Linked DNA regions of Homo sapiens: region 1 is linked to region 2. Evidence: fine-mapped expression QTL. A gene starts in region 2. The other region holds a variant in brackets. All regions are shown on one strand. Distances are from middle to middle.

Region 1 (16,251 bases), 590 kb before region 2:
CCTGGAACGAAAATCTCAATTAAAGGTAGCTACATCTCATGCCCAAAGTAAAACCCTCCATATATGCAAAATAGTAAAATTATAAAGTTGTAATGTCTGACTCCACAGCAATAAAGTCAGGAGAAAAAAATCTCCAATGACCTAAGTTTAAAAAGATAAAAAGAAAAAAAAATCAGTTTCTTACGATTTTGAAACTCTTTCCTAAATAAGCAACGTACCAAAAAAGAAACCAAAAACAGAATTCCAGAGTGGTGAGAAATAATAATAGCGGTCATTTACAAGTAGGTTTAAAAATAACCAAAATTATCACACTATATTTCGTATTATGAGACTCAGCCAAAGCTGCACTCAGAAACCAATTAAGTAGACATAAAGTAAACATTCAACATTCAACTCTCATGGGGCAGGGGGAGTGCAGAGGAAAGCAGAGGCAACAGGCAGACATGAATGCATTAAAGAGAAAAGCAGGGAGGCCGAGGCGGGCGGATCACGAGGTCAGGAGATCGAGACCATTCTGGCTAACATGGTGAAACCCCGTCTCTACTAAAAATACAAAAAATTAGCCGGGCGTGGTGGTGGACGCCTGTAGTCCCAGCTACTCAGGAGGCTGAGACAGGAGAATGGCGTGAACCCGGCAGGCAGAGCTTGCAGTGAGCTGAGATCGCACCACTGCACTCCAGCCTGGGTGACAGAGCAAGACTCTGTCTCAAAAAAAAAAAAAGAGAAAAGCAGTGAAATGTATATAAAATCCCAGCACTTGATGTCAAGGATGAAAAGAAGACAGAAGTAAGGAGGAGAAACCAGAGACACATCACTGGCATTTTTAAAGAAGAAAAAAATGAAAAGTTTATAATTAATAAAGATTTAAGTGCATATACATATAACACTATGCCAATAAATTTGAAAATCCAAGGGAAATTTATTCTTCTGGGAAGATATAAATCAAATTAATTCAAGTAAAGCATAGAAAAACTGAACACATGTCAATATTCATGGAAGAATTTTAAAAGGTTATCAAAGGATTACTGTAATGAAAATAAAAATAGCTCTAAGTTTAGATGACTTTGAAAGGTGAGCTCCAAGAAACAAATAACTCCTTTACAAATCAGTTTTTCTGAAGCATCTAAAGAAATTTAGGAATTTGTTCTAAATTCATTTTACAAAGTTAACATAATCTTGAAGCCAAAGCTAGATGAAGGAAGGAAGACGGGAGAGAGGAGGAAAAGAAGGCAGGCAGGCTGGCTGGCCACAGACACTTTCAGCTATGAATCTTCATTCAAAACCTAAAATAAAGCAGTAGCCAAACTCAGCAATATATTGAGTAAATTCTGGTACATTTTCAGAACCAAATAACACACTGTCATCTCAAATAGCATCTCCTTTTAAATGAGTAAGCAAGGAGGTTATTCGAAAATATTCATCCCAACGTTAGCATTAAAAAGGAAAAGAATCTAGCAGTCCATTACCAGAGAGCTAGCTAAATAAACATAAAATGGGATATATACAGCTTTTATAAGGGAAAGTTATATATTTAACAGTCCTAGAAAATATTTCCTATGTATTACTGAATGAAAAAAAAGTAGGCAGGCAAACAGCAAATACAGTGTCATTTTACTGTCATTGTATTTATAGAAAATGACATACATCGAACATCAGAGGGTATGAGACAAATTAGGAAGGATGTTCACCAGAGACAATGTGAAGCTTTCAGACTTTTCTTCCTGTGTGCAACAAACACGTATCTACTTTTAAAAAGCTTTTTCTTTAAAGAAAAAACCAGTTTTGAGTAATTCGGTGTATTTAAAGAAAGGAGAACTTGGGGAGTTCATGATACAAGCTTGCTAACAGCCCACTGCGTAGACCATTAGTATCTAGGTGAAACACAGACCAATTCAGAGATTTTAGCTAATATTTGGCCAAGATAAGGTTTGCCAACAATAGAAGGCAGATCATTAGCATCACCGTCACATCATACCATGATTTCCTTAGGGCGGGTCTGATTAAGCCCAAGAATGGACCAACCCTAACAAAAGTACCTTCGTTTGATGGCACCACCATGCGCTGGCCTCCAGGGGATGCCTCTTTGCAGACAGGATTCTACAGTCAACTGGGTTAACTGAGTGATTCCATAAAAGCAGCTACCGAGAGAGATCTAGTTCAGCCCACCCAGCACGTGGTGACAGTGAGGGAGTGGCAAAGCCTACCAGGAGCTACGCTGGGTGCTAACCAATCTCAAGGGCAACCTGTGCACCAGAGGCCCTGCAGGATATCAAGCTGAAGACCATCCCGGGAGTTTCAACTCCCTTTATGCCCTGCTCCCCTCATCTACAGCATAGCAACCCAAAAGTAGGCTCTGGTGCCTCCGGAGTGGGCTGTTTATCATGTGGCAGCAGAATCAATGGTATTCTTCTTTATTTACCTAGCGAGGGTCCATAATTCCTAATCTTTGATTCCAACATTAAAAAAAAAAACAAAAACACCTTGGAAAAAAATCTGTATCATATTTGGTGGCAAAGCCTGCCATGATCTGAATTATGTGGCAGTAAAACCTGACCTGATGACTGTTCTCCTGATTTATCCCACTTGGTATGCATATTCATGTTCTGCTGCAAAAACATTAGTGTGTTTGAGTACAAGGTACTGTCTCAAGATTAAAAACATTATTTCACAAATTGTGTATATGTCATTAATAGCTCTCTAGATATTTTTTTAACAATCTGAATTCCCTAAGAATTTAAGTGAGGAATTAGAGAACTGTCTAATTACAGATAGTCTCTGTCCCAAAGCAACTTACGAAATACCTGGAGAAATCATGCACAGCTACAAAACAAGAAAGCCCAGGCACAGAGGCTCTGGTTGGGGGTGGCAAGGTCTCAAGCAAGGGCAGCAATCCCATGGCAGGGGGCCAGTCAGAAGCAGTTCTTTGGAAGAATCTAGGCAAATTGTGTTTTAAGGGACACACCCATTTAGAAAGGTTTAGAAGGGCAGTGGAGAATACCATGAATGAAGACAGCCACAAGCACTTTGCAAAGAATGCCCCCACATCTGGAATGCATCCACGTCAGAAGTCTCAAGAAAGGTAAGTGGGTGGCGGAGGCAGGACCGGCTACTGCAGGCCATCTATGCAGGGCCCAGGAGGGGGATCCAGGTGTCCTCACCATAGGTTAGTTCTTGTGTGGGAGGGGCATGCAGAATACAAGCCTGGGAGAGGTACTGAGAGATCTGAGTAGGCAGGTCCAGTGACTCAGAAGGGAGGACAAGGGACTGGACCAAGAGTGGCAATGAGAGGAAGGGGTTAATTTGAGAGGGATGCCAGAACAGAAAGCCACCAAGGCCACTTGGGCAGCTCATGGTCCCACGCGCCAGTACACGTTGGCCAAGCAGAATTAGGCAACCAGGGCATTGCTTTATTCTAGCCCAGAGCAACATACGGGGAATTTTCCAACTTCAACAGGTGACACTTATATGTGAATATCAAGAACAAGTACCTTGGCCTTTGCACTTAAAGAATTACCAAGAATAAAAAAGATTTGGTTTAAAGGGCCATGGCAAAGATGCCAGAGGAAATTCAATCATCATCATAAAGAAGAGGCAACAGATAACAAACCCAGTGTCCCTTAAGCCAGCGGTCCCCAACCTTTTTGGCACCAAGGAACAGTTTCATGGAAGACAATTTTTCTACAGATGGTGGAGAGGGGAGATGGTTTGGGATGAAACTGTTCCACCTCAGATCATCAGGCATTAGATTCTAATAAGGAGCACACAACCCAGATCCCTTGCATGTGCAGTTCACAATAGGGTTCGTGCTCCTATGAGAATCTAATGCCCATGCTGATCTGACAGGAGGCGGAGCTCAGGCGGTAATGTTTGCTCATCCACTGCTCACGTCCTGCTGCGTGGCCTGGTTCCTAACAGGCCATGTGTCACCACTGGTCCACGGCTTAGGGGTTGGGGACTCCTGCTTTAAGCCTATTTTGGTAACCAGAAATACCTCCACATTTAAAAATACACATTCAGGGATAGATAACAAAGTGATTTTAAAACCATCCATAAACATTGACAATCTCAACTGTGTAACTTCTCCCCAGGCTTGCCTCCTGAATTCCAGATTTTTGTATATCTTCATCCACCTACTGGACAGTTCCACTTGGATGAAAACTTCCCTCCTAATCTTTCCAGCAATGCTTCCTGAATAGCAGCTAGTATTCGTTTAGTACTGACTATGTGCCAGCCACTGTGCTAAGTCACTTACAGGTGTTAACCCATTTAGTCCTCACACGGCAGCCCATAAGATGAGTATTATCATCACCCTTAACTTATATCACGAAGGAGCTAACTGACACGCCAAGATCGTGCAGCTGCTAAAGGGATAACTGGGATTCCAACATGGGAGACCTGGTGCCAGCATCCACACCTTAACCAGGAGGTTGTACTGCTCCCTGCTCAGCAAAGGACAAGTCCATTCTTCAAGTTGCTTGGTTAAGAAACTCAGTGGCATCCTTCAGCCCTCTCTTCTTCACATTCCACATCCGATTCAGCATATCTTGTCATCTCTACCTTCCAAAGGCATCCAGAATCCAACCACCTCTCACCACCTCCATTGTTAGTCCCCTGTTCTTAGCCACTGTCATCTTGGCTGGATCACGGCAACAGGTTTCTCTGCTTCTGGCCTTGTATTTCCCACCCCACCCCCAGTAAACCTGGTCTTATCACAGCAACCTTTTAAAAAACTGACCCTTTAGAGGCCTAATTCAGGTCATGCTGTTCCTCTGCTCCCAAACCTACAATGGCTTCCATCTCACTCAATGGCTGCTACAGTTTGAATGAGTCTCTTCCAAAATTCAGGTGTTGCAACTTAACAGCCAATGTAGTGGTGACAGAACCTTTAAGAGGTGATTAGATAATGAGGGCTTTTCCTTTGTGAAAGGAATGAAGACCCTTTAAAAGGGCTTAATGAAGGGAGTTTGTCCCTTTTTTGCCTTTCTGCCTTCTGCCATGTGAGGATACAGCATTTGTCCCCTCTGGAAGATCCACTGTTCTTGGCGCCATCTTGAAAGCAGAAACCAGATTCTCACCAGACAATGTGAGCCCTGCCAGCTTAAAGATCTTGGACTTCCCAACCTCCATACTATAAGAAGTAAACTTCTGTTCTTTGTAAGTTACCCAGTCTCAGGTATTTTGTTATAGCAGCACAAAACGGACTATGACAGAGACAAAGCCAATGCCCTTACCATGCGCCTCCAGGCTCCTAGGGCTTGGTGCCTTGACTCCTCTCAGACCTCACCTCTTTCTACTCTTCCTCATGGCCACCTGCCTAGCGACTCTGGCTTCCTGCTGTCCTTTAGATAGGCCTGGCACACTACCTCTTTGGGGCCTTTGCCCTTGCCACCTCCCCTGATGAGAACTCTCTTCCCAGTTATTCAAACGCACACTCCCTCGTCCCTTCCCTCAGGTCTTTGCCTAAACACCTTCCTGTCAGTGAGATCTTCCCTGATCACCTGTTTAGTACTAAAACCCTTGACTCTTTCACACTCCTAACCTCCACCGCTTTTTTTTTCTCTTCTGTATTTAACATGCTTTTTAAAAACCACATAATTAATGATTTATTTTATTGTTTTCTCCCCCATCCTCTTAATGTGAGCTCTATGACGGCAGAGTTTTTTTTTAATGTTTTGTTCACAGCTGTTTCCCCAGTGACCAGAAAAACACCTGTCATGTAGTTAGCACTCAAATCTTTGCTAAATAAATGCATAAATCCAAGAATAAAAATAAATCTTCAGTGAATATAAAACTTTAAATCCAAGTACAATATTCCTATTGGGATATTTCCTTTTTTAAATAACTTGAATTTCCAAAGAGGTGTGGATTTTCTCACATTATTGTCAGATGAAGAAAATCATGGCTTATTCAATATAGTTAAGATAGTCGTTACTATAAAAGTCTGAACTTTAAATTTTACAGATGGCAGTGGAGATTATGGGCCCTCATAGGTTCTACCATTAACATTTAACAACTCCAGAGTACAGGCCAGGCATGGTGGCTCATGCCTGTAAACCCAGCACTTTGGGAGGTAAAGGCAAGAGGATCACTTGAGGTCAGGGGTTTGAGGCCAGTGTGGGCAACATAGCAACACCCCATCTCTACTAAACAATTTTTTAAATCAGCTGAGTACAGTGGCGCACACCTGTAGTCTTAGCTACTCAGGGGGATGGCTTGAGCCCAGGAGTTTGTTACGGTGAGCTATGATCACATCTCTGTACTCCAGCTTGGGCAACGGGGTGAGACAACTCCAAAGTATATGTGAATTGTCAGTTACACCAGTGAACAGATCGGTGTTTTGACTTAATAATGAATGTACCATAAACTGACAATGCTGCTTCTTTTAAGTTCATTAGAAACATCACAAGTAATCTCCGAAACCATATTCAAGTGAAATACGTAGCCTAAATGACAAAAAAAGTTAAAATAAATTTTACAGTATTTTGACTGTTTCCTAAAATATACAAAACCCTTCCACTGAAAAAGAAAGTTGTTCTTTCAGTTTCATGGTTCCACGACGGGGGGCAAAGTGATGGGTTTTAAATGGATAGTTGAAGTAGGACAGTTTGTTAGGACTCGAAGATTGATCTCATTTATCAAGCAAAACTCTGTTGACTCCATTTTTCCTGGTCTAATTTCTTTCTGAAATAGGTAGGATCACTGCTTCACAGCTATTTCCACAACTGTTTTTGGTTCTATGATAAAACAATCCAATACCATCTCAGTGTGACAGAGGCATTCACATACTGGAAGCTGAAAGTCTGCCAGCCATGTCACACACATTTTGAGAGCAAAGTGTAACAAAATAACAGTTCATTCTTTACTTAAAGCTGATATATATACAAGCCACTAGTCACTATATTAATGTCCTGAATTTGTGTAATTAATGTATGTAGTTTATGTGTACATCTGAGCCTAATAAAAATGCTGTAAGACAGGCCAGGCAAGCATGATTATTGTTTTACAGATAAGAAACCCAGGGTTTACAGAGATTATTTTAACCTCAGTCTGGGAGCTAACAGCTGGTTGAGCTATTAATAAAAGCAACACATCCCAACTTCAAGCCTGTATTTCCATTTACTCTCCTTCGAGATAGACATTATTGCTCAGGGCAAAATTTATAAACTGCCAAATTCAGAGTGGATTTGAATTCCAAATAAAACACTCAGGTGTTTTTCCTGCTTCCAGTGACAGTAAAGTTCCTTGCTGTAGACCAACCTACTCACTAAAAGCAACCAGAAATTCGGGATGAAATACACTGAAGAATCTATTTGAAGGCACTAGAGAGCTAGCAAAGCAGCCAGGTGTGAGGTCAGGTTTCCAGAAAGGAGAAGCACCTAGAGAGGAAGGCCAACATTCTCTGATCCTCTTCCCCTCAAACGGCATAGAGCCAAACGGCCGACTGAGCCGAGCAGAAGCGATGGTCTTGTAGGTGCAGAGCCAAGTGAAAGCTTCTGGAGGTGCTGTGGAGCTGTGGAGGCCAGAAATGGACTTCAGGGCTTGCTGAGGAAACTGGGCTCTGATACATATCCCAGACTTCCAGGTCGAATCCCACAGGGCTACTTCCTAGTGGCAAAAGAGAACTGGAAACTCACCAGCTCTCTCACAAAAGACCGAAACCCAGCTTTATACCAGCTCAATTCCAGACTTGATTAAGGTGACCTGCCCTATTTTAACTGCCTGCCAGAGAACAAAACTAAATCCTCTTTGGAGGAAAAAGTCAGTGAGAGCCCTGAAATATCTCGGTATTTATTCATACACAACAAAACACAATCACTGAAATGAAGAATTCAGCAGTGGATTTAAAAGCAGACTAGACAGAGCAGAGGAAAGGATCAATGAACAGGAAGCAGGCCAACAGAAATATATCCAGACTGAGACACAGGGAATCAAAAAGAATAAAAAGTACAGAAAAGAGCTTATGAGGGACAGAGGAAACGCAGAATTATCTAACAAAGATGAAATTAGGGTCTCAGAGGAAGAGGAGACAGAACTGCAGCATGGCAAAACTGACAAGGCATGAAGCTCAAGAGTCAGGAAATTCCACAAATCCCAAACAGGTTCAGCACAAGGAAAACAACTGCTAGGCATATTATGGCAAAATTGCTGAAAAAAAGAAATATCTGAAAAGGCAGCTGGAAGGAAAAGTCAAATGTCTTCAAAAAGAACAAGACTAACGGTAGACATTTCGCCAGAAACAACAAAAAACAGAAGACAACTGAAAGACAACGTAAAGGTGCTGACAGTCACTGTCAACCCAGAATTTCACAGTCAGTGAAAAGAC[T/C]CTTCAAAAACAAAAGTAAGCCGGGCGTGGTGGCTCACACCTGTAATCCCAGCACTTTGGGAGGCTGGGGTGGGCAGATGGCTTGAGGTCAGGAGTTCAAGACCGGCCTGGCCAACATGGTGAAGCCTAGTCTCTACTAAAAATACAAAATTGGCCAGGTATGGTGGTGGGTGCCTGTAATCCCAGTTACTTGGGAAGCTGAGGCAGGAGAATCACTTGAACTGGGGAGGCGGAGGTTGCAGTGAGCTTAGATCACACCACTGCACTCCAGCCTGGGCAACATGAGCGAGACTCCGTCTCAAAAAAAAAAAAAAGTAAAGTTAAGATGTTTTCAGACAAACAAAAGGATACAATTCATTGCCAACATACTGGGACTAATAGAAATACTAATGAAATACAGAAGGAATATGGTCTTAGGTAGAAAAATAGAAATATAAGAAATGAGGAGCAATGGGAATATAAATATGTGAATAAATCAAAAGGATATTTACTGCATAAAACAATAAAAGATATCCTATAGAGTTTATAAAGAAAGAATTAAGCTAAATGACAACAAGAGCACAAAGGGCTGAAGGTAAGTGGAAGGTAAATTATTAGAAGGTCTGTGCATTGTCTAAGAAGTAATAAAATTATTCATTTACATTAGGCTCTACATGTGGACTTACTAGTCAAGAATTTAGCAAACCAACAGAGAAGAAAAAACGTAGGAGGATGCAAGGGAAAAAGAAACACAAAGCAGGTGGAACTAAGAGAACACAACCAGTGAGATGTTGGTGTTAAACCCCAATAAACTAGTACTTACATTAAATGTAAAAGAACTAAATACACCATATAAAAGATAAAGATTGTCACAGCAGATGAAAGTCCAAAATCCAACTATAGGCTACTTACAGAAGATACACTTTAAATATAAGGACATAAAAAGTTTGAAAGTGAAAGCATGGGAAAATGTATACCATGCAAAAACATGAAACCAAAGAAAGATGGTGCAGCTCTACTGATATTGTAAAACAAGAAGCATTACCACTGACAAGAAGTGCATTTCATAATGATAAAAGGGCCAGTCTACTAAGAAAATAACAGAAACTCACAAACAGGTCTAAAATAGAAAGAACAGAGCTCTGTTGTAAATGGTCTAGAGGTGGTTAGGTTATCCTTACTAGGCTACGTAATTGCCTGTTTCCTTGTCTGCCTCTCCGGGAAGACTACAGTTTCTTGACAACAAAGACGATCCTCATGGTCATCACTGCATTCCCAGGATGATGGCAGAAAGAAAAGACTAAAGAGTAAAGAAAGCAAATCACACAACTCATTTAGCATCATTGTGCTTTTGCCCAAACCATAACCCAGAGTTACAGATGGGGAAACTGAGCCACACATGTGGGCAGCCACTCAGGGGTTAAGCTTTGAGAATACGTTTGCTAATGATCTTTGAAAAGGAGACTTGAAACGGGCCCTTCAGAGATGCCAACATCGACACAAACGAAATCTCTACAGTCAAATCAATACAGTCTACTTATACCAGTCTCAATGCATTCTTTAATTCAGACAGAGAGAAGGCCTGAAATAGACCAAAAAAAAAGAGGAAACATATCAAGGGAAGAAAAAGAACGGTCTGTGGTTGAAACCAGAAGTTGGTTTTATAAAGACACAAAAAATAAAAACAAAACATAAACAAGCACGCTGATGAATAATGACATGGCTTTGGTGTGAACTGTGCATATCAGATGCAAGTTACAACCTGGGATGAGTTGGTGGGGGACCCGTTAAGCAAGGAGCCATTATTGCTGGCCACTTCCCACTCCCCACATCTCGTATATCTCGCTGAGCCTGCCAGCACCCTTCCAACAGCAGGCAGAGATGTCACACTGACAGGCAGAGATGTCACACTGACTGAACACACAAGCAGTCTCACTTCCTGAACGGCATCAGCAATGTTCCAAGGGAACAGAAATAGAGTGCACTCTTCCAATACATTTTCTTCGAGAATCTGAAGCTGGAAAAAGAAAAACAACCCCATTTCTTCTCCATTTCTCAGCATCCCATCAACGTGTGGCCAGCTTCCCTTAGGAGGTTGTTTGGCTGCAAGTTACCAACACCCATCTCTTCCATTTTTTAGGTGCATTCAGGCCTCATGCCAAGACTCATGCCTAAAAGCCGGGAGTATGAAAGACCCTCTGAAGAGCGGACAGTAAGGGAGCCACAACTGTTAGACAGAACCCTGAGCCCAGGATACAGAGTGCTCCAATTCCTCCACCAGTGAGCCCTGTTAGAACTCAGGCAAGTGGCTCACCTTTCTCGTCTGCCTCATAGACAAGTGATAAAACTTCATGGCTTAGTAACTGTAAAATCCCTGGGGACTAAGGCTCTCTAGATACAAGGTGGTGCCTTATGAGGCCCCGGGATATCCTAGCTGCCTGCCTCTCCCCAAACATGTTCCAACCGACAATGTGAAAAATGAGAAAAACAACCTCTGCTCTGCAAACTGAGCTCACATCCTGCCGAACCTGACTCCTGTGTGCAACTCTTCTACTTTCTGGAAGTGGGGTCTGAGTTCCGAGCCTTCTGGGAACTGGTATACGACATCATCAGAAGTATAGCATCCCTACCCACTTTACAGGAGTGTGATGCAGAGTAAATAAAATTTTTTATTTTTAGAGATAGAGTCTCACTCTGTTGCCCAGGCTAGAGTGCAATAGCATGATCATAGCTCACTGCAACCACAAACTTCTGGGCTCGAGTGACCCTCCCCTTTCAGCCTCCCAAGCGGCTGGGAGTACAGGTGCACACCACCACACTAGAGTAATTGTTTTTTAAGATGGGGTCTCACTATATTGCCCAGGTTGGTCTCAAGCTATCCTCCTGCTTCAGCCTCTCAAAGAGCTGAAATTACAGGTGTGAGCCACTGTGCCCAGCCTTAAATAAAATTAATGCACACAAAAGGCTGAGCATGGGCCTTGATACCAAAAAATGTTCAATGAACTGCTTTGTTACTGTGATTATTGAACAAGCTTTTAAACATTCACTGTTACACCACACCCAAACTCCACCTGCCCCACGGCCACAAATGCCAACAAAGCCAGAACAGCTAAGCCTAGAGAAGCGCCTGTCCCCACCTGTGACACCCCGTGTGGCCTCCCATCTCCTCCACCAGGACCCTGTGGTGCGGCATACAGAGTTGGAGTTGGGCAGCAAATTGATGCGGGAGGAGTGGGTGCTCGGGCCAGCTCTACCATGGAGCAGCGGTTCCGTCACAAGAATCTCAGGAGGCCAGCGGCGCATGTTTATGAGACGCCGCGAGCTGCCGAGAAGTACAACATAAGGACAAAGCTCCAGCCCTGCCTGGGTCTCCAATCACACTCCCACTGGGGAGCTGTGTGGATTTCCCTAGATCTTCTGCCCCCCTAAAAAGAAAACTCTGAGTCCCCTAATAGTTGCCTTAGCCAAAGCCTCCCTCCAAGCTGGCTGACTTAATGCTGAAAACCTTCACTTGGCTTCAGCAATGTTTGTTCTTCCAGAATAAGAATGGGAAGTTTGGATTTTATCTTTCCCCACAATCCTTAATCCTGATTAGCCACTCTTAAAACAACTGATATCAATACTGACATTCCAGTGAGAGTAAACAGCACAACCCAGGCCTTCAATGTCTGCCCTCTTTAAATGCCCCTAAAAAATAAATAAAAGAATACACCCTTAAGAGCTTTGACCTATGTTTTGGCTGTGTTAAAGGCAGACATTTCAAAAGTGGTCAAAATAGAGTTCTTTAGTAATTCTTCTAAACAAAGGGTGAGCCACTATAATCTGTAACTAGAGTAAAAACAACATATTCTTGACTTAAAGATAAACCGATTAGATGTACAACTTGGACACACTCCTCTCAAAGAAGGTTCCTTTGTAGGGAAATGGTTCAGGCAGTGGTATTTCAGCGTGAGACACAAAAATGTTTCAAAACCCCACATTTTAAATGTAGTGGTGGCAAGGCAGAGAAAAGCTTTCTAATAACTAAACGTTTGAAACCCAAAGGAAACCTGTTTCTTTAACAAGCAGTTCTTGTTTTTAAAGGATTTAATGAAACAAGTCAAAAGGAACGGTGTCTAGTTGACAGGGGAAAGAAGAAAACAAAGAAAATGGTTTCCCCCCTAAAGGTTGATTTCATTTTACATCTGTAAATAATTTCAATGTAAACTGTCCCAAGTTTTCCCTAGTAGAGAGAAAGAGATTTCATAAACTTCCTGGGTTCCTCTACTTTATTTTCTTATCAGATGCATTTCCAGGCAAAAACAATCAAAACCCTCCTGGAAAGGAGTTTGGATCCCGGAAACGCTCCAGCCTGACGACACTCACTTCCTAAGCGCAGCACACTCTAAAGAAGGCATCAAGGGGATGTTACCCCAGGAACCTCTGAACCAGACAACACTGGGGAGAGGCTTCAGAAGAGCTTAAGAGAAAATGAAGGCAAGTGTTACCCAAGTCATTTCAGGATCTGGCTGGCCGGTCCTCCCACTGGCCTGCCGGTCATGCTGTATCGTTTCCACTCTGTATTAGTCAGCCTGGGCTGACAATACCACAGACGGGACCTTAAACAATAGACTTTTTTTTTTTTTTTGAGACAAGGTCTTGCTCTGCCACCCAGGCTGAAGTGCAGTGCAGGCTCAGCCTCCTAGGCTCAAGCCATCCTCCCACTTCAGCCTCCCTTGTAGCTGGGACCACAAGTGTGAGCCACTATGCCCAGCTAATTTTTGTATTTTCTTGTAGAGATGGGGTTTCGCTATGTTGCCCAGGCTGGTCTCAAACTCCTGGACTCAAGCGATTCACCCGCCTTGGCCTCCCAAAGTGCTGGGATTACAGGCATGAGCCACTGCACCTGGCCCAACAATAGATTTGTATTTCTCACAGCTCTGGAGGCTGGAAGCTCAGCTCAAGGTACCAGCAGATCTGGTTCCTGGTGAGGCCTCTTCCTGGCTTGCAGGTGGCCCTGTTCTGCTGTGTGCTCACATGGTAGGGAAAAAAATCTCTCTTTCCATCTTCCTCCTCCTATAAGGACACCTGTCCTGTAGGACAGGTGGATCAGGGCGCCACCCTTTAGGACCTCCTCTAACCTTAATCACCTCCACAAAGGACCTGTCTCCAAATACAGTCACTCTGGGGTTTGGGACTTCAACGTAAGAAACTTGAGGGGGCACAATTCAGTCCACAACACACTCATACTTCCATGCGGCTGCTAGTCAGAGGGACAGAGACTTCCTGTGGGGCCTGTATGGGCTACAAGGCTCAGGAGGTGATGGCTTTCAACCTGCTTTTGAGGGCTGGCTGATGGAGAAGGCAGGTATGACTCAGAGCAATAACAGAAAAAACAAAAAAACAACTTCAACATGCTTTTTTTTTTTTAACTAATGGGGGGAAATAAGTAAATGAGGGCTTGACAGGAAGCCCTGTGGCCATTTGGGTAGGACAGTCTCTTCAATGTGCCAGACCAACCTGGGCTATACGAAATATGTGGCTTCATTGGGCCCTGGTGGTAAATGCCAGGAGCACCCCACGGGTATTCTAACAACCCCCGATCCTCCACCCCCACATTTCCATCTTCGCTCTGGGTGGGTGGCACAGCTCAAGGCTGAGAACCACTGAATTAGACACTCCCCTGAGGCTCCTTTTAGCTTCACAGTCGCATAGCTTCATAAAATTATATCTCCTGATCACGGGAACACAGCCTAAAATAGTACGCAATCTACAGTGTTAGACTGTCCTCAAGTGTCAGCCGTTGGCTCCAGATTCACAGCTAAAGATCTCAATGTTGGAATCGTCCAGGGCTCAGGCCTTGGGCCTCTTCTGTCTGCATCCATTCCCTTGGGCTTAACACCCAGCCTCACGGTTTTAAATACCATCCATACGCTGAACATTTCCAAATTTACATTCCCGCTAAGACCTTCCTCCTGAACACCAGACACATATCCCACCACCTACAAAACAGGTCCACCTACACTGAGCAGCATTAACATGTCCACATTTCCCTACACCTGCTCCACTCACAGCCTCCCTATATCTCAGCTGAGGAGACTGCAGGTCTTCCCTTGTGCCAGCCACAATCCTTGGCACCCTCTTCCAAGCCATACCCCCCTCCAGTCCATTAGCACATCCTGTTGGCCCCACCTTCAGAATATAGCCCACCAGACCACTTCTCACCACCACCAATGCTACTTTCCATTACCTTCTGCCTGGACAGTAAGAACAGCTTCCCAACGCAGAGAGAGAGAGAAAAAACAAACACTTACTACAAAAAAGAAACTTCAGAATTCCCATTGGTTTAATTTGCTTTTAAGTCTTGATAATTTATTTGAAATTTCCAAGCAAGAAGATTATTTTTTTAAATTGAGAAACCATGCAGAGATCACTGTTAGAGGTGAGGGATATCCCAATTACCCTGACTTGATCATTACACATTGTAGACAGGTATCAAAATCTCACATGTACCGCCAAGATAGATAACAACTATGATATATCAATTTAAAAATAAAAAGAAAAGAAATGGTGCTTTCAAAACTAGGATGGGGCTGAATGCCGTGGCTCACACTTACTATCTCAGCATTTTGGGAGGCCAAGGCGGGAGAATTGCTTGAGGCCAGGAGTTTGAGACCAGCCTGGGCAACACAGTAAGACCCCATCTCTACAAAAACTTAGCCTAGCGTCATGATGCGCACCCACGGTCCCAGCTACTCAGGAGGCTGGGGCAGGAGAATCACTTGAGCCCAAGAGGGAAAGGCTACAGTGAGCCAAAATTGTACCACTGCAGCCTGGGTGACAGAGTGAGACCTTGCAGAAAGAAAAGAAAAAAAAAATAAGATGGGCTATCATCTTTCTAATATCTAAGAGGACCTAATATATCTTATACATAGTATTTAGTATTTCACTCACAGCTGGCTTTTGTGTGCTTCCTGATTCCATGTAAATATTTCTTCTTGGTACAATATATACATCTAGAAAGGTAAATAAAGCATAGCCCAGAGTTTTTTGTTTGTCTGTTTGTTTGGGAGGCTCTGAAGCCTTATTCCTTGTATCTATCCTTCAGGGTAATAAGGGGTGGATTATAATCGCAGTTTTCCAGTCCTGGGAGAACACAAACACAATGAGGTTATTTGTGTGTGGCCCATCTTGAGTTCACAGGACCTTTATACTTAAATATCCCCCTTTCCTTCTCCTGTATTCTTTTATGATTCTTCATATCTTGCATGATTTATTGGGCACTCAATATATGCCAGGCACTCTGCTAAACAATTCACTCACTCAGCAAATACTTATTGAATTTACTGAGTGCCCGGAGGTGTCTGAATAACAACCCTGGATACAATAACTCACTATTCGGAAGAAAAAAATAAGTAAAATACACAGTGTGTGGGTGGTGAGAGGAACTGTGGAGAAAAATCAAGCAGGAAAGGGGGACGGGAAGTTTTGGAGTGGGGGTCAGGGGGTTGAACTCCTAGGGAAGATGGTCAAGGGATACCTCACTGAGGTGGCTCAGGGGAGGGGCAACCAGCCCATGTAAACATGTTGCTTAATCTTCATAGGTTACAGATGGAGTAATGTTCTATCATCTTATAGATGATAAAGGTCACAGAATTAAGAACTGGAGGGTCTGAGATTTTCAACCCAGGTCTGTAGGACTCCAAACACCTCATTCTTAATTACCCTCCACCTGTACTGCTTTCAGATTTATCAAAACTAAAGACTGAATTCTACTGTGCAAGAATTTCTATTGATCAACACGAAGGTAGATACTGCAGAGACAAAAAACATTTTATACAGAAAGGTCAAATTCTGAAATAGCTCCCCATTAGATATATTGGGAGAGAAATTCAAAGAGGTAACCCAATCTTCTTAACCTGACATTCAACAAGAATGGTAATTCTAGAGCTTACACTTTGAGACATTAA
Region 2 (12,716 bases):
ATGGAAAGAGGTCAAAATATCAACATTATCAGGAGTTTGGAAGAAGCTGATTCCAGTCCTCATGGATGACTTTGAAGGGCTCAAGACTGAAGTGGAGGAAGCAACTGCATATATAATGGAAATAGCCAGGGAACTAGAATTAGAAGTGGAGCCTGAAGATGGGACTAATAAAACTTGAATGGATAAGTTGTTTCTTAGAGATAAGCAAAGAAAGTGGTTTCTTGAGATGGAATCTACTCCTGGTGAAGATGCTGTGAACATTGCTGAAATGACAACAAAGGATTGAGAATAGAACTTAAACTTAGTTGATAAAGCAGTGGCAGGTTTTGAGAAGTCCAATTTAGAAAGAAGTTCTACTGTGGGTAAAATGCTGTGTCTTTCATGAAAGGAAAAGCTCCATCAATGCAGCAAACTTCACTGTTGTCTTATTTTAAGAAGTTGCCAGTCACCCTAACCTTCAGCAATCACTACCCAGATCATCAACATTAAGGCAAGACCCTCCAGCATGATGACTCCCTAAAGGCTCAGATAACCAATAACCACTAGCATTTTTGGGCAATTTTTTAAAATTAAGATATGTACTTTTTTTAGGCATAATGCTATTGCATTCTTAACAAACCACAGTATAGTATAAACATAAATTTTATATGCACTAGGAAACCAAAAAATTTCTGTGACTCACAATATTGTGATCTATTTCAGTGACGTGGAACCAAACCTGCAGTATCTCTGAGATATGCATGTACCAAGTTCTAAAAGTTAGAAATACAAAGACTGCTCAGAATGACCACAGAATGTATCAGACACACGAAGCAAAAAAGTAAGTTAAGAGTTGAAAGTCTGGGATTTGTGTCCTGGCTTCCCCCACATTACCTACAGCTTAACCTCTAATACTACTAATATTTATACATCATCTGGGAGACAGACACAGTTGATATGAAATCATACAAGTGCTTTATGAAAAGGAGGACTGTGCCTATCTATACAGGTTCCATTACGTGTCATGTTTCCTCTTCACAAAACATTGAAGAAAGCTCACAATCCCAGAACTGTCAATAACAGTATGAATAGTGACAGATGCCAGAAGGAATAAAATCTCTCAGTATAACAACAGCAGAAACCTTGATCCAATTGGCTGCTAGAGCCTCCCCTTTGTTTCACCCTGGGCAGCACCTGCCAGGTGATGGCCACGCTGCCAAGATGACTCCCAAGTGCAGCCAGGTGTAGAAAGCACTGGATATGACCGCTGCTCTCCACACCACACGTCATCATCGCTTTACATATGTCATCCATCTTGGAAGCATTTTGTGCTGTCTTCCTTGACAACAGCAACTGGATGTGTATTAATCCAATTTCATGAGCTTGTCATCCTGGTGTTTATCATGCCAACTAATTTTTAGCCTAAAAAGCCTGAGAAATTCTAACAAAATGCAATGCCTTTCTTGGTACCTAGCCCATTTCTAAAATGGCTTTATACAAATACTAACATTTCTCTACTTCCCAACCTTCAATTTATCCAATGCGGAAGACTTTTAACAAAGCACCACCAACCAACAGTTTAAGAAACATCACTTTGGATTTATAAGCAAATGCAGCTATCAATGGACTTTCAGAACCTAACTTCTGTAACTTAATTCCCAATGTGTTCATTAATGCATATACTTAGTTTGTAATATAATGTCTCCAAACAAAAGAAATGCTAAATTCGGTGGGTTCATTTATTTTAAAGAGACAAGGTCTTGCTCTATCGCCCAGGCTGGGAGTGAAAGTGGCACAATCATAGCTCATTGCAGCCTCAAACTCCTGGGCTCAAGGGATCCTCCCACCTCAGCCTCCCAAGTAGTAAGGACTACAGGCACATGCCACCATGTCTGACTAATTTATATACATATATAATATGTATATGTATAATATATATACATATATAATATGTATATGTATAATATATATACATATATATTATATATATTATATACATATATACTATACATATACTATATATATTATATATATATTATATATGTATATATACATATATATACATATATAATATATATAATTTTTTTAAGAGATGGGATCTCATTATGTTGTCCAGTCTGGTCTAGAACTCCTGGCCTCAAGCGATCCCCCGCTTTGGCCTCCCAAAATAGAGATGACAGGCATGAGCCACTGTCCCCGACCTAAATGAGGTTTTTTAACAGAAAAAAAAAATGTATTAATGAAGTACCTGACTCATTACTTTTTTCATTGACATTACATTTAACTTCCAACAAAGTTCCCTCCCCAACTTTTTCTCTATTTTTTTATTTTAACCAATTGTCAATATCCAAATTATAAAAGTGATAATTATCTTGACAGACTGTAAAAATATGAGTTTCACATTAAACTTACTTGTTCTTTATTTGGAAGAAAGCACTGGTGAGAAATCCAAGCAAAGTGAGCTAGTTTTAGTTTATCTTCCCAGGAAGTTGTCTTGCTTTTAAGCTTAAGGGAAATGCCAGAATAAACAGCAGCCATGGCTAGGCTTTATCTAAAATTTAAAAACAATGGGAAAAAAAATACTATAACAATGTCAGACTGAGCAGGCACCAGAAAACCAACAGTATTGCAGTACTGTATCTTGTTTACCTAATATGTATTCTTTTAAAAGTTTTTAATGAATCAACAGATTTGTCGGGGTAAATCTACATACAAGATGCTTGACTCCAGAATTTTCTGGGGGAAATTCAGACAAAAGCAAGCAAAAGATGGACTGCACACACAGAAGATGGACTATATGTATTCCAGCTATGATCAAACATCACTTCCACAAAGGTGAGTGTTCAGGAATTCAACAAGGCCAAAATCAGTGATTACATTACTTGTGGAAAGAGTCATTCATACATGGTTTCAAATTGAAAGAGGAAAAGATACATAAGCAATATCCGGAGAAAGTAATATGTCTCCAAGTGAAAAAGAAAACCCCAAAGGAATACAGTTATTTCAGCTGCAACAGTAACCTTCCACTAACACTTTTATTCAGTCGTGTATAAATTTACAACGCACATACACTTCAAAAAAGACTCTACAAGAGATACTTGCACAAGGAAAAGACTAAAAATAGAAAACAAAAAACCATGAAATCTCGGGGGTAGCAAACATACCAAACACCTACAGTTACTATTAAACTGGGTAAACTTGGCTTTGAGTTTCCTAAAAGTTATAGTAAAAAGGAACGTTAAGACGTTTTCATTTTAGAAATTAAGTTATCCTTCACTCTACTGCAGAGAACAAGAACGTCAAGTGCTGTCAGTTTTCCTATTTTGTCAAAATGTCCAAAACGAATTCAACGATGCCTGACTTTCTAAGTTCAATACCATAGAACCGCCATCGCGACAGCTACAAAGTGCATAACAGGTGTTTGCTGAACTGGCTACAAAGACAACCGAGATGCTCTCCCCGGCTCCGCCAGAGTTCGGCTCTCCGGGCCTCCAACCGCCCTTACCGGGCAATGCGAAGTCCAGGGCGGACAGCACAGCCCTGCCAGCACTCCCTGCCCAGCAGAAAGAGACCAAGCAACAAGAACCAGGGGAGAGCAGCTAGGAGCCAGGAGGGAGTTCGCCTTCGCGAATGGAGCGTGCCGAAGCCGCTCCAGCCCAGAGTCTGCTGGCGGCACCGGAACTGGGCAGGGTTGGGGGGCCCCCCATCTGGGCCCGGCCTTAGGTAGGGGGATCTCCTCTGGACCAGCCCCGGGTGGGGGGACTCACCTCGGGACCTGGCTGCCCGCAGGGGCTGACCGCAGGTGGGGGACTCACCTCGGGATCCGGCCCGGTAGGGGGCTCAGCTCGAGACAGCTCCGGGTAGACAGGGGAGGACGGCGGCAGCGGCGGCGGCTGCTGTCCCGGTGCGGCGGAGGCCGCTGTACGGGTCCCGCGTCCCCACCACGTGGGACCGGTACCCGCGCTCCTTCCGCCGGACGCCGGCGGCGCAGCGGGGAGGGGCTGCACGCACGCCAGGCGTCGCCAGCCGAGCGCCGAGGCGCCTCGCCCATTGGCGGAGACGGTTGCGCGTTGGAGGCCCGAGCGGCCCAGCCCGCGGCCCGCTCCGTGTCAGTCAGTCATGGAGCGGCCGCCCAGAGCGGCGGCGGGGGCGGCGGGGCGCGGGGCGCGGGGGCCCAGCTGAGCCGGCCGTCGGAGTGAGACCCTGCGGCAGAGACGACGGAGGCGGAAGCAACCCGATCCCGGAGGCGGCGGCGGCGGGGGGAGCCGGAGCCGCCTGGGATGTTCAGTGAGTGCCGGGAGCACGGGCGGGGAGGGCCGGGAGGGTCGCGAGGCGCGCGCGCGCGCGGGCGGGCGGGGGCCGGGGCGGTGGGGCCTCGGCGGGGCGCGCCTTGGCTCCCGCCGGCGGGCGGTGGGGGTGGGGCGCGGGAGGCGGGGCTGGGGGGCGGCGGGCGGCTCTGCGCGGGCGCGACGGCCGCGCCTCCGCCCTCGGCCTCCCGAGTCCCGGGCTGCGGCCGGCGGCGTGGCCTGCAGTCGGCGGCTACACCTGGACTGGCGTCGCGTTCCTGCGCAGGGGTGGGTCCTGCGGGTTGGATGCCGGGCTCGGGGAGGAGGTGGCGGGCGCCCGCGGGGAAGGTATCCCAGTGCCCGACAGCCAAGCAGGGAGCACGGCTCCACAGCTCCTTTGCATGTAGGGGAAAAGGAAATGTCTTTGCGGCGAAGTCGGGATTCAACTTTGCACATGGTGATCGTGCGTGGGTGGGTGTGGAGTCGATCTCCGCGTGTGACACGGGGGAGCCAGAGTTAGACTAGCTGCTGCAGGAGAGTGCTTACCTGCAAGGGTGTCTCTCGGGGCTCGTTGCCTCATGACAGCAAGGTAAGGTTGGTGCGCCCATGGTGTGGGACGGGTTCACCACCTCCAGCTCGCGAAGCTGCCAGGCTTTTGAAAATGTATTCGATAAGGCGTTGGTCCGAAGTGAGTGGATGGTTAGAAACAGTGGTGTCATTTTAGACTTAGCGGAAGTGGAGTGCAGGAACGCTACATGCAGTTCTCCCATCAGTTGTGAAAGTCGTTGTAATGCGGATCTCGCAGTCTTTGTGGTTCTGGGATCAGAAGGTAAGTGCCAGTCCCATGCAGTGTCTGTCTTAAATTACTGTACCTAAACTGACCTTGCAGATTGGAATCTCGGAATGGTGACTCCTGCTAACAAGCAGTTGGGAGCTGTGCTGAGAGGAACATTAAGTGCGGAGCGTGTCTTATATCAGGCGATTCAAGTGTGCCAACACCTGAGTTGGGGATGTAGGGGAGGACACGGAGGCTGTGCCCCAGTTCCTGGTCACAGCTCTACTTGGAAGGGGGAGTAGGAAAGGGAGTTTTGTGCTTAATAGGTTAAATGCATCTGGCCACATCTTTAAACTTTGGAACAGCATAATGTAGTGGATAGAGCTTGGTGACAGTAGACCTAGGATGGAAACCATGTAGCCATCTGCATAACCTCTCTGAACTGTAGTTTCCTCATCTATAAAATGCGATGATAAGGAATAACTTAAACGTGGATTTTTTTTTATCTTTAAGAGACAGGGTGCCTCTATGTTGCCCAGGCCTGGGCTCAAGCAGTCCTCCCGCCTCAGCCTCCCAAAAAACGACCTTTTTAAAGGTACCCAGAAAAAGAATGATGTGTATGAAAATAGCTAAATGTTAGCTATTATCGTTTCCTTTTTGGCAAAATACCTTCTAGGTTCCCTGTAGTCCTAAGTTTTTGCGTTAAATGGAATATATGCTAATTTTTTAATGAATCGTAAATTCTTCCTGCCTTAAAAATCAGCGCTAAGCTAGAAAATTAAAAGGTGGGCTTGTTTTGAGTATTTTTCTTTGTCATCAACAACAAATTAAATTAGTGTATCTTGGAATAGTTTTGTTGCTCCTGCCTGTAAATGTGAGGCTTATGTGAGCTTCTGTCACTGTGAAACTAGGTAAAGGCCTCACTTAACTACTCAGTAACTGGTTTTTGGTTTTGCAAGCAATATATTAGCACCTGTGAAGGACATCTCTGGGGAAAGAAAGGGGGTTTTGTTTCTGCTAATTTGTTTTGCTGGAAGGGAGCTCTAGGGGTCATCTGTTAAACCAGTATTACTCAGTGGACAGTACTAGAAGTCACGTTTCCAGCCTGTCTTGTATGTGACTGGTGGCTTCTCAGGTAGTAAGTGTTCTGATCATTCTCTCAGCAAGCTTCTAGTAAGCATTCATTGTTGTGCTCCCTCAGGAAGCCCCTGGTCACATGTAGAATCCTTTGAGCAGCAAGATGCTGTAGAAGGTGAGAGCTCAGACCCTTCAGCCAGGTGTCCTGAGTTCCCATCCTGGCACTGTGTAACTTCTTTGCGCCTCAGCTTTCCCATCTGAAGAACGTTACCTACCTCATAGGTTTGTTGTGAGCTTAAAGAAGGCAGTCTATGTAAAGCACTTAATTTTAAATGCTTTAAGTGTCTTAGCGTCGAGTATGCTCAGTGTTAAGTATTCGTAGTGGTAGTGTATGAAACAGACAAGAATAGGGTAAGTTCTGTGACAGATTTGTTCCTGGGTTCGTGTGTGGAAGGGATTGTGATCAAGGAAGCTTTTGGGAGGAAGACATGGCTAAGCTGAGCTGCGAAGTGCGGGTGGGATTTAGCCAAACCAGGTTGTAGTGCCAGTGTGGCAGTGCCTCCAACTACTGGAGGGCCCCTGAGGGGAGAAGGTGGAGTGGGACCCACCAGTAGAGTAAGAAGAACCAAGGATTGGTCCAGTGAGGTAAACAGGCAGATTAGAGCAACCTGGAAATGACACAGTAGACACTCAATTTTTCTATCCTTCACACTAGTGGAGGCAGTAGAAAGTATTTTGTTTTGTTTTGTTTTGTTTTTGGAGACGGAGTTCCACTCTTGTTGCCCAGGCTGGAGTGCAATGGCGTGATCTTGGCTCACTGCAACCTCCGCCTTCCGGGTTCAAGCGATTCTCCTGCCTCAGCCTCCCCAGTACCTGGGACTACAGGCATGCACCACCATGCCTGGCTAATTTTTGTATTAGTGGAGATGGGATTTCACCATGTTGACCAGGCTGGTCTTGAACTCCTGACCTCGGGTGATCCACCCACCTCAGCCTCCCAAAGTGCTGAGATTACAGGCCCGAGCCACCGTGCCCGGCGGCAGTAAATGTTTTTAAGCTTAGCAGAGATAACATCAGATTAGCTCCTTGGAAAGATTGTGCCTATAGTAGTATAGTATTATGTTTAAAGTAGGGCCAGGTGTGGTGGCTCATGCCGATAATCCCAGCACTTTCGGAGGATCACTTGAGCACAGGAGTTTGAGATCAACCTGGGCAGCGTAGTGAGACTCCGTCTCTACAAAAAAAAATTTTTTTTTTAACTAACCAGGTGTGATGGTGGGCATGCCTGTAGCCCCAGCTGCTGAGGAGGCTGACTCAGGAAGATCTTTGAGCTCAGTCAAGGCTGCAGTGAGCTGTGATTGTGCCACTGCACTCCAGCCTCGGTGACAGAGCAAGACCTTATTTCAAAATTAAAAAGAAAGACTTTTATTTTTATTTTATTTTACTTTTATTTTTTATTAAGATAAAGTCTTGGCAGTTCCCTATCTGCCCGTGATTTCAAAAGGAAAATGGTAGTAGAGTTGGGCATTTTATTCCAAATCTCAAAGCTTAGACAGCACTTACAGAAAGCATGAAGAAACCAGGCAGCCTTCCCTCTTAAAAATTATCTTCAAGTATGTATTGTATATGCTTGATCACAAGCAAGGTTTTCCCCCAAAAGTCTCATGTTTGGGGCTCCCCTGTTACAGGGCACTCTTTCTCAGTCTATTTTGAACAACAAGGTGCTGTTTGGGAAGGACATAATGGGCTGGAACAACTGGAGCAACCTCAGCTGGTGCTAGTTTGGGATATTTATTCAATCTTACCAAATAAGTGAAACAAAAAAATAGGAAAGATTCAGTCATTAAGTCATTCTTCCTGATGGGGGTGGGGGGTATCACAAAGTGCAAGTGTTAAATGCAAAACATAATGTATGTATAATATATATACACACACATATCTGTATATCTATATATATCTATCTGTATAGATAGATAGATAGATAGATAGATAGATAGATAGATAGATAGATAGATGATGATGAATGAAAAGAAGTTCTGCTCACCCGAACAGGCATTGATGGCTTGGGTTGAGATTTCCAGCAGGAGTATATGGATTTAAGACGTGCTTTATTGTAACTGATTTAGTAGATGGGAAAGGTAAAGTGCTCTGGAAATGGAATTTGATGATTCATAGTGGCTTAATTCATCACAGACACTGGTGTTTAAGATATTCATGAACAGTTGGAGTGAATTTCTTTAGTGAATTAATATATTGCCTTATATATTTTAGATATGTGTAAATTAATAGAGATTATAGTTAGACATTTGATTTTCATCTGTAACCCTCAGAGTTTCTCTTTTTTTAAATTAAAGTTGACTAAAATGTTTTCTTTTTAATTTTCTTATTGGTATGGTAAGGTAGTCATAGGTTTGGGCTTACCTTTTAGTTGGACATTTTACAGAAAGAAATTAGCTGCTGTTTCTCCACTGAAGCAAATTGTCTTTTTCCTTCCTATTTTTTAATTTACAGAAGATTTGAAGAGTGTTGTATATTGTCAGTGTTTAGAAAACACTATAAAATACTTCCATTTATAATTGTTTAGTAGTCAAAGAAGATATCCTCCCAGTAAGGTGTATCAAGGTGGATGGGTATGTTAATAACTTCACAATGTTTGGCAATAATAAAAGGTAGCTGTGTTTTTAAAACAAAATACTAACTTTTGGAGACTTTGTCATTAGTAAGCAGAAGTGTTATGCAAAACTTTGTGAATTAACTTTTTTAAGCCAAGATGCTGATGCATTAGTTTCACCAGGTAATGTCATTCTGTAGAACTCTGTTGTCCAATACAGTAATCATTGGCCACTTATGACTACTTAAATTAAAATTAGTTAAAACAATTCAGTTCCTTAGTTGCACTAGTCATATTTTCATTGCCCAATTGCCCTGTGTGGCCAGTGACTACTGTTGTGAACAGTGCAGACTTACAACACCTCCGTCGTTTGCCAAAAGTCCTCTTGGACAGTACTGCTCTGGAATGAAAAATTGAAGATCATTCCATCCACTTTGAGACACACACACACACACACACACACACATAAATGTTTTAATGAAGCGTCTTCAAATCCTCATGTACTGCATTTGAATTCAGTTTCAGGAACAGTGATAAGCATGGGAAAACGTCTTATCCCTTATTTTGAGAACAGGACATCCTATTTCTGTCTGCAGTGGTGTTTGCAAATAGAGCATTTGTGAAAGTTTTCTTTATGTAGTCAAGCATAGTAAGTAATGTAAAGAGCCATTCTGTAGATTGTGCCACACTCTTCCATGTTAATAAGATTTTGTATAGAAAAGCAGTTTTTCTGTGCTGTAAAACAGTATTAAAGTAGAAATTCAAAAAGATCACGAGCTTAAAATAAACTCTCAAGAATTCCAAGAAGCTAGATAGCACTCACGTTATTTTTATGATGAGTTTCAAAGATAAGGCCTGTCCTCAGGGAACTCTCCATCTGTTTAGGGGAACTGAGGAAGAGTGATGGCAAGAGGGGACAACCTGCATGAGGGTTGGGGTGATTTAGGCTTGGTTGTAACATCATTAGATTTGTCATGTACTTTGGCTGCTTTTCAAAGGGCCATATGAGGAGGGCCTAAAGGTGGAAGAATATTGGAATAGTCCAGTTGAGAAGTGATTTGTAGAGTCGGGCATAGTGGCATACACCTGTAATCCTAGCTACCTGGGAGGCTGAGCTGGGAGGATCATGAGCCCAGAGGATGGAGACCAGCCTGGGCAATATAGCCAGACCACTTCTCTAAAGAGAGCGAGAAGCAATTTGTGCTGTCAAATAGCAAACAGTCAAGATGGGGTAGCAGAAATGGTTGAGTTGCACTAGCCGCAATTTTTTTTTTTTAAGTTGAGAGAGAATTCCCATTTAGAATAGGAGTTGGTGGCCTCTTTGAAGTAAGGGAGAGAGAGAACAGAATTTTATCATGACTGGCTTTTTGGTTGTTTTGTTTTCTTTTGTTTTGTTTTTGCTTTAATGGTGGATAGTGGCACCATTAAGCCGGCTAAGAAAACCGGGAGAAGGAAGAGGTATTGCAGGTGGAAATGTCTGTTAATTGACTGAGTTGAGGAAGGTGGTCTGACTGTAAGTCTTGCATGGTGGTGTGGTGAAGCCGGGAATGTGAAGAAGCAGTGGCAGACAGTAATGGGAGGGCAGAGCCACAAGAGAGGCTTGCAGTGGGAGGGACCAAGAGAGTTTCAAGTAGGAGGTGAGTTCAGCAGCATCACATCCAGCTGAGAGATCGTGAAGGGTGGTGCTGGAAAGTGACTGGTTAGATCAAAAAGTTAAGGAATCCCAAGTCTCAGTAGCCCACTGAGGTCAGAAGCAGGGTCAGCTGGCTGGGTGAGGAGACTGGTGAAGGTTTAGAATAGCGTAGGTGGAAGGCTGTAGGGTAAGTAGTTGATGAAACAAGACTTCTGGAACATCATGGAGGTCCCAGCTGATGTTGGAGAAAATCTACTTCTCATGACATCTGTTTGCTGGATTTCGTGATTTCCACCTACTTTCTACCACTGCTGCCATCCCCACCAAAACGCCACATTCTTCACTGCGTCCTGAGCCCAGCTACGGCCTTATCCATGTGCCATTTTATTTCTTAGGACACCATGGGAAAAAACACAGCTTCTAGTTCAAGTGTATTTATGTCAGTCTGAGCAAAGATTGAATATGAAAGGCTATCATAATTTTTAAATTATATGAGGTATGACTGAAACTGAAAGTAGTATGGCTCATTTATTTTTCAGTTGTGATTTATATTTTCACAAAGCTTATTGAATACACTTTATCATGATGATTAATGCAAAGCTAGGGCTTTAGGTCCTACTTAGACTGATCTTTTGATGTTACAACCATTTAGTTGCTGTGAGTGAAGAGAACTAATAACTTGAGTTACCTAGTAGACACTTTACAAAAAAATGCAAAAAAATAATTTTTTTCTTCTGTTATAAACATAAATTTGCCATTGGAAAAAAGATACAATTACTCAAAAGCCAACAGTCAGAAGTCTCAGTTGAAGAGCTGATTTGAGGATTGTGTAGTGAGTTTGCCTGAATTTATCTTGAACTCACCCCTACTCAAAACTGCCACCTTATTGGGGCAGGGGGAGGGATGGGGGAGCCAGGTAGTACTCTTTTGGCATTTCGTGGAACTGTGTAGTACTTTAACCTGTGATATGGTGGATGAGGGTGCCTCCCAGCCCTCCTCTACCGACCGTGTACATTAGAGCCTAACGGGGGTGGGGGTGGAGGGATAGGATGCAGCGTGTAACCACTGAAGGGATTGACCAGACTAGAGTTCCACACTGACAGCATCTTAAGAGGATGCCTGGGTTCCATGTATCTCCACCTCCCCATGTTTCTGTAGTTGAATGTTAAGTGTGGCTGTGGTTTTCCCTGCAGAGTTGTTACATTGAAATGATCATGTGGGATTTTATATAGCAACTTGGTTGAAGTATCTGGCAACTGTTGATACATGAGAATAGATATACATTGTGTCAAAATCCTCCAGAAATTTTTGATTTCCAGAAATACCAATCTGGCAACTGTTGATACATGAGAATAGATATACATTGTGTCAAAATCCTCCAGAAATTTTTGATTTCCAGAAATATCAATAATGTGATATGAAGAGCAGAGTATTTGACATCTGTTTTTACCTCTGAAAGTTAAGTATTTTATATAAATTGAAAATGATGAGAAATTCTGAAATGTTAACAAAGAGTATAATTATATTTAAATCCAATTTCAGTTTGAAAGATTTTATAATTATAGGAAAAGCTAGGCAGGTAACGAAACTGCACTGTTCGTCTCATGTATGAGTCTCTCCAGAGACTTAGGTCTAGTTTAAGGAGAGTTTTTTTTCTTCACTTGTCCCTTTTTGGATATTAGTACTCTGGAAATCAGTCTGGGTGGAGGGGACCGATTTATCTCAGGTTCATTAATTATCCATGTCACTTGAAATATATGTACATTGGAATAAAACCCAGCTGAGTTGATTGGGTCGTGTCTCTAGTATTTGAGTTTAGCGTGGTTATGCAAGAGAGTCATTGCCAGAATTCCTGCCCTTAAGATCCATGGCCATACAGTTGATTCACCACCCACCCTCAGGGAAGCGCCCTTATCATAAATGGTAGTTTGGACTCAGAGAAATTGCTATTTGGGGCAGCTAATTTAAGCATATTTGTTAGAATCAGTATTACAGACTAGTTTCTAGCAATCTTAAATATGGTCAGTGTTGACTATCATTCATTCTTACTCCGTTCTGTTTACTCTTTCCTAACTTCACATCTTTTCCCTTCCTCCTCAGACACATAGGTATATTGTCGCACCTTGAGGACACTGTGTCATTGCAGAGCCTGTTCTCCAGATCAGTCATTCACATGTCTTTCACATGCAGAGTTTTTTCCTGTCAGAGGTGATCTAAGAGATCGAGGCCCATCTGCCTGGAATGCTCACGGATGTGCATCAATATTTGCATGCATTCCCAAGTCAGCAAAAGATCGGCAGTGTGGAAGCCGGAAAGATTTCAGTCTCAGCTAGAGTAGGGAATTGGGCTGCTTTG

Alleles and levels. Positions count from the first base shown, and alleles are read on the strand shown. Sizes are in standard deviations (SD) of each study's normalised expression.
For the expression in neutrophils of the gene that starts at base 4,029 in region 2, T is the high allele of the variant in region 1 and C is the other (large effect, 1.2 SD a copy in BLUEPRINT).

What was found. PIP is the estimated chance that this variant, and not a neighbour inherited with it, causes the effect.
Region 1: its variant is fine-mapped to the expression of TAF5L in neutrophils (BLUEPRINT, PIP 0.95).

Annotation. Positions count from the first base shown.
Region 1 is chr1:230,206,502-230,222,752 of GRCh38, reverse strand. The region is part of intron 3 of GALNT2 (polypeptide N-acetylgalactosaminyltransferase 2); the gene reads right to left. Among named protein-coding and RNA genes, the nearest start is that of GALNT2, 150 kb to the right of the region's middle. The variant T/C (reference allele first, on the strand shown) is at 8,324.
Region 2 is chr1:229,617,435-229,630,150 of GRCh38, reverse strand. It overlaps TAF5L (TATA-box binding protein associated factor 5 like), which reads left to right and starts at 4,029. Exons shown (of 5, transcript NM_014409.4): 1 at 4,029-4,266. It overlaps URB2 (URB2 ribosome biogenesis homolog), which reads right to left and starts at 3,904. Exons shown (of 10, transcript NM_014777.4): 1 at 3,795-3,904; 2 at 2,392-2,530. The coding sequence starts at 2,517. RefSeq lists enhancers at 3,331-3,410, 5,071-5,120, 5,965-6,515 and silencers at 3,601-4,300, 4,391-4,580.